2 separate regions of the Homo sapiens genome follow, and region 1 is linked to region 2. The links come from fine-mapping of genetic effects on gene expression. A gene starts in region 2. The other region holds a variant in brackets. All regions are shown on one strand. Distances are from middle to middle. Region 1 has its middle 28 kb from the start of GCOM1. Region 2 holds the start of GCOM1 (GCOM1, MYZAP-POLR2M combined locus).

Evidence for each region.
Region 1: its variant is fine-mapped to the expression of GCOM1 in T cells (TOPMed, PIP 0.97).

The regions. Positions count from the first base shown.
Region 1 is chr15:57,560,913-57,566,289 of GRCh38, reverse strand. No RefSeq gene overlaps it. Among named protein-coding and RNA genes, the nearest start is that of GCOM1, 28 kb to the left of the region's middle. The variant T/C (reference allele first, on the strand shown) is at 2,595.
Region 2 is chr15:57,588,833-57,594,209 of GRCh38, reverse strand. GCOM1 (GCOM1, MYZAP-POLR2M combined locus) reads right to left here and starts at 2,306. Exons shown (of 17, transcript NR_104371.3): 1 at 2,101-2,306. It overlaps MYZAP (myocardial zonula adherens protein), which reads right to left and starts at 2,306. Exons shown (of 13, transcript NM_001018100.5): 1 at 2,101-2,306. The coding sequence starts at 2,175. RefSeq lists a silencer at 2,308-2,417.

The sequences.
Region 1 (5,377 bases), 28 kb after region 2:
TATTCAAAGCCCATGTATTCTACACTTTAAAAGAGTGAATAATATGGTATGTAAATTATGTTAATAAAGGTTTTTTATTGTTGTTGAGATGGAGTCTTGCTGTCACCAGCCTGGAGTGCAGTGGCATGATCTCAGCTCACTGCAACCTCTGCCTCCCGGGTTCAAACAATTCTCCTGCCTCAGCCTCCTGAGTAGCTGGGATTACAGGTGCGTGCCACCATGCCTGGCTAATTTTTGTATTTTTAGAAGAAACAGGGTTTTGCCATGTTGGTCAGGCTGGTCTCAAACTCTGCCCTCAAGTGATCCACATGCCTAGACCTCCTAAAGTGCTCGGATTACAGGCGTGAGCCACTGTGCCTTGCTGGAAGCTACTACTAAAAGAAAATACCTGAAAACTCAAAGACTTTTTATTCTTTCCTACCCACTGGCCAGAGATCTCTTAGCCTTCCCTCAGTATACTAAAAGTACATGAGTAAATAGTCTGCCAGAAAGGGTGGAATAACCTGGGGACTATTACACCGTACAGTAGCCAATTCCATTTTTCTTTAATAACTGGCAATGAACACTCCCAGGCGTTTTCATTGTTCGTGAAAACTCTGCTTAGAACACAGAACAGAATCAGAGGTACAGGACCAGCCACCGAAGTTACACCTCTGGTTTGGTTGTCTGATTCAGGAAGGAAGAAGGTCAACTCCACAAGCCCCACCCTGGCAGGTGTGCGGAGCACGAGGGGGCCTTCCTGAGAGAGCAAGGAAGTGGGGCGGGAGATATCCCTGCTGACGAAAGAGACAAAACCACATCCAGCCAGGGGCTGCTGTTGCAGTATGGAGTTCCCCTCCGCGATGTGAGCAAACAGAAGAGAGAAAACGCCATCTCATGCCAGGATCCTTTCAAATAGGTCTCTTTCCCAGCCAAGCCTACTTTCTGCAACAGTTTTTCCCTTACATACGAAGCTTCTAGCAAAACACCCAGCATAGAGTGGGAGCTCAGTGAATATTTGTTTCATGAATTAATAGCAACATTTCTTATGATGGCAAACAAAAAATAAATAACTAAAATGTTCTACAATGACCTACTGGGTCATGCACATTTATGGTATGCCCATAACTAGGCAAGTCATTTAATATTTCTATGCATAATTTTTTTTGCTAAAATAGAGTAATAGTACCTATCTCACAGGGTTATTGTGATGATTAAATGAGCTTAGGTATATAAAACAAATAGAATATTGCATAGCATATAAAAATTACAAAACAAATGTTAACTATTAGTATTATTATTCCATGGAATACAGTGCAATTATTAAAACTGTGTTGAAAAAATATATTCTTTTGAAAAAAATTTTTGAGAAAATATCTTTTTATAGCTGAAAAAATTCACAATAATTTAAAAAAATAAGCTATGTAATAGCATAAACAGTAAGATTCCACATTTTGTGAAATAAACATCCATGTAAAGAAAAAAGTGTACACAAATATACATAAAAATATTTATAGTAGTTATTTCTAAATAGTGAAAGCAAGGGGGACTTTCTTTATTATTAATTGCTTATCTATTTTTCAACAGTCAGTATAAATTATTTGAGTAAGTATAAAAATTAAAAATCCAATTGAATCAGAAAAGCATTCATATTATTTGACACACTAATTCCAATTTGAGGATACTATTCTTTAAAAAAAGTCCCAAGTACCAAAGAAAATATTGCCTATAAGAATTAGGTAAAGTGCCAGGCGCGGTGGCTCACGCCTGTAATCCCAGCACTTTGGGAGGCCGAGGCAGGCGGATCAGGAGGTCAAGAGATCGAGACCATCCTGGCTAACACGGTGAAACCCCGTCTCTACGAAAAATACAAAAAAATTAGCTGGGCGTGGTGGCGGGCACCTGTATTCCCAGATACTCGGGAGGCTGAGGCAGGAGAATGGCATGAACCCCGGAGGCGGAGCTTGCAGTGATCCGAGATCGCGCCATTGCACTCCAGCCTGGGTGACAGAGCGAGACTCTGTCTCAAAACAAACAAACAAACAAACAAGAATTAGGTAAAGTGTGATGATTTTTCTATAAATTATAGAATAATATATAATGAGTTTAAAAGATTGATGTTCAAAATAGGCGTCAAAAAGCATTAGAGTAACGCTTGAAAATATTAGAAAATGCTATCTATATTAAGTTAACTGGGATACAAATGACTAGTATCTGATCTCAAGCATATAACAAAAGTAATCATTGGCAGAAACAATAGCTGACTCTCTGCCCTTTGTTGAAGTTAACTATATTTGTCACCTTTTGACCAGAACAAGGTGGATTCTTTCTCAACAATTTACAAATTAGCCAGAAACCCCTAAACTTAATAGAACTTCAGTTCTTCCAGGTGGAGGGTTGTCCTGTGACATAAAACTAAAATCATTAAATCTATCCAGTCTAGGAAGAGAAAAGCCCAAGAGGAAATATGCTGTCCATGTATGAAATCATAAACGTTCAGGTAAATATAGCCCTGTTCATTTATCAAAATGTGAGACAAACAAAAGTTATTTTAATTCTATCAGTATTTGTCAGGCACCTGCTACAAACAAAGATGAATAATGAGACAGACTTTG[T/C]CCCGGAGAAGCTCACCACCTAATGATGTAGGAAAAAATAACTATAATCAGCTAACCACAGTCCGGAAGCGCTGCAAGAGAACAAAAGACCACAGGAGCCCAGGGAAGGGGGAAGTTTGGATTTGAAGCATCACCTGGGACGTAACCTTGATGCTAAACCTTTACACTAAAGCATGAACATGGTTTTGGTAACCGGCAGACTGAATGGTCAAATTCTAAGCAGGGATGCCGTCCTTCACTGAACCACTGATGGGCACTGGGGGTAGCTGATCACTCTTAGGGCTGTGTCCCTGTGCACTTGCAGAATGTGTCAGCATCTCAAGTTGACAACTTCTTGAGAAGTTGAGGGAATGATGTGGAAGAAGGAAAAGAGCTCAACAGCCCAAATCCAAGAAGCAGATCTTTAAGCGCAATGCAGTGTTTTAAAGCCTGCTATAGGAGTACATGAGAGGGGGACCACACTTAAGCACAGCCCATTTAAAATGCTTTAATTGCCTATCTGTGCAATAAGACTGAACCAAATGAATATTGACAAATCCGCTAACATAATCTAGTCTTGCCTTGCATTTATAAAGGTTAGGACCCAGAATTATAATGTTCTGTTTAATTTCAAATGCCTGCTGTCTGACAGGGGCTTTCTCCCGAGAGAGAAAGGCGTGGTTCTTTCCCTCAAGGGGCTCCCACCCTGGTGTGAAGAGACACACACATCACAATGTCAAAGCCTCGAGGGAGGCACGGGCCTGCCTGGGGATAGCCAGAAGGTCCTGCTCCCACCAGCACCTTCACTTTTAGAGCAAGGAGGGAGTGACCAGCATGGACTAGACAGAGGGGGAGAGGTCAGGAGTTAACTCACAACCAATGTTAAAAATGGACTTAAAGAAGAAAAGGATGTTAGCCTGGAGAAGAAAGAACTTAGAAGGGGCCTAAGAGCCTTTTTGACTATAGAGCCACAATGAGGAAAATGGGGAGAGTGGGTCAGTGCCACACATCCCCAGCAGCAGGCAGAGCAGAGATGATCACATCTAATATCACAATCACTTCTGAAATTCTACAAAAATCCACAAAAGAGAGTACAGGAAGAAACCACACACAGGGCCAACAAAGGATGGGATGAATTCAGGAAGATAGGAGAGTGGGGGATGAACTTCCACCGCTGGGTAATAAGGGAAGCAGGGACGTGAGGACAGACGTTCATGCCTTCCCACAGGAGGCCTTGGAGCTGCCGACAAGGCATCTCCCAGATGACGGAGCAGGCGTGGCAGGACGCCATCTCGCTCAGGGCAGCACCTGGTTAATGTCAGCACCGGGTCTGGTGAGGGCTGGTCTCTGCTGCGACATGGCAGGAAGTGTGCTGTGAGATCTGGTTAGAGGATGTCAAGAGGACCCCCTTGCCACAGCCTAACCAGTGTGTTCTGGACCCCACGTTTCCCTTTCCAAACTCTAATCCATCCTATCATTGCTCAGGGCTTTTTGATTCTGCTCCTTCCTCCCCTCCCCACACACATAGAACCTTTTATTCCAAAATCTAGCAGTACATCATTGGTTAGTAGAAAATAACTCTCAGAGCCGGGCGCGGTGGCTCACGCCTGTAATCCCAGCACTTTGGGAGGCCTAGGTGGGTGGATCACTTGAGATCAGGAGTTCGAGACCAGCCTGACCAACATGGAGAAACCCCGTCTCTACCAAAAAATATAAAATTAGCCAGGCATGGTGTCGCATGCCTCTAATCCCAGCTACTCAGGAGGCTGAGGCAGGAGTATCACTTGAACCTGGCAGGTGGAAGTTGTGGTGAGCCGACATCGCACCATTGCACTCCAGCCTGGGCAACAAGAGTGAAACTCCTTCTAAAAAAAAAAAAAAGGAAGAAAAAGAAAATAACTCTCATAACTTAAAAACAAAAATCAACAAACAAACCCCCCCCTCAAAAAAAAATCCTATAACATAAACTTCCCAACCATCTAAAAACCCAAACTCAAAACGTGTTTCTTTTGTCTTCCCTTCTTGAAGGAAGTAGGTCTGCACGGGCCTCCCCATCTCCTAGAGCTCGTACACAGCTATGAACCTGCTCTCAACAATGACTGGACACTTCCTCTTGGTTCATGGAAAAATTTGCTCGTAATTTTCCAGTCTGACTCAAGCTATCAGCTGGCGATACAGTTTTTTGCCAGCTTTACAGTCATTACATTACTCAAACAGAAACCCTTTTGCAGGTGACCTTGAAAGTTATTAAAAACTATTCTCTTTTTGAAGGAAGGACTTGTTGGGGGCGCCTGGTAGAGAGAGGATGTCTCGACTGGGTCTGGTGGTGACGACATCCTGGAAAAGGAACAAGATCCAAGTCACCAATCATTCTCTTATACAACGCATCCTTGAATTTTGAAGAGCCTGATATTGTGGATGGTTTGTATTGTCATTTGGCAGCAAAAATAACCTACATTGAATACACAGAAATAGTCCTCCACAGCCTCTGCCCGGGCTTTCCAGGTTTGACCACTGTGCAGTGCCTGTGATGCTCTCTGCTGCCACCCAGTGGATATACTGAGAAAGGTCAGGTAGGATGTTTAAACCCAGAGGTTCTCAGTGTGGTCCCCAGACCAGCAGCATTGGCATCAAATTCTTGGCTGCCCTAGAAACTCTGGGAGTGGGGCCAGCAGTCTATGTTTTCACAAGCCCTCAAGGTTATTCTGATGCACACTGAAGTTTGAGAAACACTAGTGTAGACTAGGTAGTAATTTGCACCCAGGGATGTGTGAAATGGATCATCAGATTTCTCCATTGGGAGA
Region 2 (5,377 bases):
TGGGAGGTGGAGGCTGCAGTGAGCCGAGATCGTGCCATGGCACTCCAGCCTGGATGACAAAGTGAGACTCCATCTCAAAAAAACATACCTTTAGTGAGAGGCCTTCCCCTGATGCCTCAGGAAGAACCTTTATTTTAGCTTCTACAGAACTTTGTAAACTCTTCACCCCACTATAACCATCACCACTTTGTTTGATGTTAGTTTGGGAAAATGTCTGCCTCTACAGGTAGGGCGGACCCCAATGCCAGCCCTTTACCACACAGAGAAAGGTTTATGAATGTTCAATAAATCAATTAATCAACATCTCACAGCTTCCCACCACACACACAATCCCCAGCACACACACAGATAGTACTTGTAACATCTGCAAATCATGAGCAGAGCTAGAAACCATAAAGATGGGCAGAACCCTAGACCCTTTAGATACCTTCCTTCCAGAAACAAGTACCAGTGTACCCAGGACAGCCCTGAATGGCCTGATCCCGAGCCCTGAGTTCTCCAGTCCAAAATACGTCTGCCATCTTATTCAAAAGGCAAAGTCTTTTCAAGAGTGTCACAATGTGTCCGACAGCAAAGCACCTATAATTAAATAAATATTCCAAAGGAAACGTTTGACCCAAAATCTTCAGAAATGTTATTTGTATACTAGTCACATTTGTATCAACCCACCGTATTAGGTTAGGTACCCCAACTAATCCCCACCTCTGGAAGGGAAGTTACAGAGAATTTCATGCAATTCATGCAGTCTGGTCACACATATGATCCTCTCAGGGCTCAGGGTTAGCTTTTCAGTGACTTCATTCTTTCTCAGTTGCAATTGTGTTCAAATTGAGAAAGATTTCCATAGAAAAATACAAACACCCAACTTAGAGTAAGGCCAGGACTGTGGTTGGAAACCCCCTTGGACCCAATGTAGATCTTACTCTATGATGCTAATGATTGGACAACTGGAGTTCTGTCAACCTTGGGCATGAGCCAACTGATGGATTCTGGGGTGTGTGTGTGTGTGTGTGTGTGTGTGCGCCTGTGTACACAACCTAAGTGTCTGGTGAGTGCACGCACACACACACCCCAGAATCCATCAGTTGGCCCATGCCCAAGAGTAACACACCTTTCTTCTAGAGCTAAGAAAGACAGCTTATAAGGTGACCACCATCACTCGCTTAAGGCATGTAAAAGCAAATAAGCAGGTCCAAGCCTGCACGCAGACAGAACCAGTGGGGGTTTTGCTTTGGACTTAACCACCTGTTTAAATCTTGAGGAAACACGATTACAGAAGTCTCAATCAGAGCAAAGAGGTACCAAATGATAAGTATTGAACATCATGATAAATGGAAGAACTAAAAAGCCACAAGCCAAGCCCCTGGCTGTGGCTCTAAGGTGCTGACCGTGTTAGAAAGATGGAGCATTTCTTTTACAGAGCATCTGGAGAGATGGGAAAAGATGCCACAAAGATCAAAAAGAAACAGCACTTCCAAAGGGAAACCTTCCCTGGAGATGCTGTCCCAAGCTTTCAGTGCTGCCATTGTTGTCACTGTGCTAATATTTAAATCAGACAGAAGAAAGTGGTTTACATAAACCGGAGTCCCACACAGTCGGGCTCCTGGGCGGCCGGCTGCTGTTCTGGTTTGCCCACCTTGGCTAACCCCACTCCAGAATTACCCTATCACTAGTGGATACCCTATCACTAGTGGACACAAGTGACCCCATCTTTCTTTTAATTAATGGAAGAAGGAAAGTTTGAGTTTTAAATACATTCATTACTTTTGAGTCTCAAGGTAGGGACACTGCACAAATGTCTTCCTTCATTTTTAAACTGGTGCCGCCAATAAACTCGGCTTGACAGAAAGGCAGGAAGGAGAGGAAATCTCTGGGAATTCCATAAAGTCCCCTAAGCCCTCTCCTACCAGCTGGTGGGCCCCCTGAAACCTCAAGCGGGAGGGTCACTGCCAGAGCCGGCACAGGACCGGGGAGTTGAGCCCAGGGTGGGGCGTCGGGGCCAGGTGCTGGCTCCCGAGCTTTCCCATCCCTAGTCCCCTCTAGAGGGGGCGGCCGGGATGGGGGAACGGGACGGCGGCGGCTCCCGCCCCCGCTACTCACCCTCCTGCTGGGCGCCCCGGGCGTCCTGGCGGCGCCGCCCGAGAGCAGGGTGACCGTGGACGTGGAGCGCAGCATCCCGCAGCGGCGGTCGGTAGCGGGCTGGACGCCGGCGTTCCTCCCGGGCAGAATAAGCGTGCGGGGCCCGCCCTGCGCGGGGGCGACGCGGGACGGCGCCGGCTACTTGCAGCCTCAGCTGCACCGCGAAGGCCCGGGGGTGGGGCCGGGGGCGGGGCCGGGCCGGGCCGGGGCGGGGCCGAGCGCGCTCACCCGACCCGTCAGGCTGCATTTTCTCCCGAGGGCGCCGACCCGGTTAAAGTTGAGCACCATCCTCTCCCAGGGCGCTGCGCCCTCCCAGGGTCAGTCCCAGGGCAAGAAGGAGCCCTGGACAGCCTGGACGCCCATGCTCTCTCTGTCCCCCGCAGAGTTGAGATCCACCTGCCCATTCAGTCTCACGACCTACCCCCACCCCGGACTGCCCCCTACAGCCTCTGCACGCCCTCGTATCACTGGGACCCTCACCCCATGTCATTCATTCAGTATTTCCTGAATGCCTATTATGCGTCCCCACCAGCAGCCAACCCAGTCGACTGGCTGTTGGCCTCGGAGAGTTTGCAGTGTGGTGGGGATGACAGGTGCCGGGCTGTGGTAGAAGAGGAGATACCATGTACTAAGGGAGCACACAGCCAACCTCAGAGGAGGTGATGACTAAGCTAAGACCTGAAATGCAAGTAGGAGTGGGCCACACTGCCCATATTTATTCAATGATTACTGTGGGCCTGCCTGGCGAGCACTTTGCGTGTGTTACCTCATTTAATCCTCACCATTGCCCTTTGAGGGAGTCACTGTTGTTACCTTGTATCCCCATTTTGCAGATGAAGACGCTGACTCACCTAGGGATTGAGCAACACAGCAGGCGACCCACTGGCCTCTCAGTGGCAAAGGTAGGATATGAATCCCCCAGTCCGACCCTAGTGCCTTGCTTGTCCCCTCTGCTGTCCCCTAACAGAGGGAGGAGGGAGTCCCAGGTCAAAAGAACTAGCATGCACAAAGATGGAAGGAAAGCAAGGGAAGGTATAAAATATGTTTCAAGAATTGGAAGTATCACAGTGCAGTGGGAAAACAGTGGAGAAGCAGCGGAAGGGAGCTGAGGACATCATGAGGAACCTGTGTGCTTAGCTGGAAATTTGGCCTTTATCTTGAGGACAAAGTGTTTTTCAGCAGGGAAAGACACAATCTCTGTCTTCAAAGCCCAGGTCAAGCACTGCCTCCCCACGGAGCTCTCCAGAAACCCCTTCCCCAAACACGCATGCTCAGGAACTTAGCAGCTCCGCGGGACCCTGTCTTCTGTTAGAGTTATCTATGTGTGTGCCTGTACCCTGTCCTTCTGGAGGGCAGAGGCCAGGCCTTGACCCTCTCTGAATGCCCAATGGCACCAACAGGGAAGATGCTGAAAAAAAAATGTTGCTAAACAGAATTACAGATGATCCTGTGGAACTCACTCCTTTTGTAGATGAGGAAACTGAGGCCGGTGTATACAAGTGACTTTCCCAAAGTTGCACAGCCTGTTCTTCACCATCCTCATCGTCATCCTCACAGTAGCTGTGCTTGTGTCCTAAGTGCTTTATATGCATTTTCTCAACCAATTCTCACAATGCCCCACAAGGTGGGCTACAGTTATCGCCCCTGTTTTGCAAATGAGGAAACTGAGGCCAGAGACATTAGGTTAATTGGTGAACAGCTGAGACTACACATCTAGTCTTCTAACCCAAGTCCTTCTGCTTTTCTGCTACACTCCTCTCTGCATCCTCCCATCCACCTATCCCTTCCAAAAAGAAAATTGTTCATGACAGGTTCCTTCCCATTCCACTTCCACGAAGCCCTCTAATCTACCCAAGTCTTTTTCATATTGTTAACATCCTATTCACACGGTGTTATATTTCTTTACAAAAGCAGCAGACAGCTCACTAGCTTGTGAGCTCTGTGTAGAAGCTGGATCTTGTTTACATCTCTGCCTGTCCAATATCTAGAGCAGGTAATTGACGTGTGGTAGTGCAAGTAAATGTGGAAAGAATGAAGAAATGTTATTACAGAGTAAGATTTCAACTCACTCATGGTCATGAAAAACAGAAACTAAGATCCTTGCCAACCCAGCTCCTAGGGTGGGCCAGGGACTCCAAGCAATTTGGCAGCTGAAGCAACAAGAGCCCCAGGGTTGTCCCAGCCAGGCCATTTCCCCAAAGCTGGCTGACAATCGCCAAGGGCTGTGGGTGGTGTGTCCAGGCAGATGCCAGGCCCTGGCTTATGCCACAGCTCCTCCCTAATAGGCCAGCACTAGGAATCTGAGGTCATAAGGAACTGCAAGAGAGAGGAGAGTGGGGAGCCCAGAAAGTGGGAAAGAAGGAAAATGGGAAGACAAGTAGGACTGAAATCAATGGAAAAGTGGATCTAGAGTGGAGAGGAAAAAGTAAAAAATGAAGTCACAGTCACTGGTTTCCATTAATATTTCTGAGAGAAGATGATTTTTAAAAAAAGATGGACTCTTTTCAAAAGAGGAATCAAAAGCTGAGAACTTCTGCCCAGTCAGCAGTCCTCTGGAGTCTACAGAACTGAGAGTGGGGAAGAGGGCCAATGGGAGGGGAACAGGGATAAGGGTCTGGTGTAGAAGTTCTCCACATTCCCTTGCAACATGACTCATCTACTCCAGACCCTCTGAGCATTGGTGATGAAGGGGTTGCTAGTGTTTGGGCTGGAGAGAACGGGAGCTATGACAAAACTGTCTTAGCTGTCATCCTTTTCTATCCACAGAAATAGCCACATAGGCCTAAGAGCAGTCCTGAATTTCTCTGCTAAAGCACAGGTGTGTAGAAAATTCCAGATGTCTGTATAAGCACCCTTCATTTTCTTGTAATCAGTTACTGAATTTTACCTCCTTCTCCCATCCCAGTTCCTAGAATTATCTTTCATATCCTCTAGGTCTCTGCTTCTGAATTGTCTTTGTTGCTTTCTGCTAAACTCTTTCCAAATTCCATTGGCATCTTTAGTTGAGAGGCTTATGATAGGACCCTTTTCTCCAGCAAAGTCCTGAGCAGCAATGACTCATTATTTCTTGCACAAATGATCAAGAGTTAAATCACTGGACAAGAGCACACAGTAGATGAACCCAAGCAATTCTGGCCCTCCTGATATTTCATGCCCTCTTCACTCTTATATCTCTGAAGCTTCTCTTTCTTTCTCTCCCATTCAGCTGCGACAGCATCCCGAAGTCCTGGCATATTCT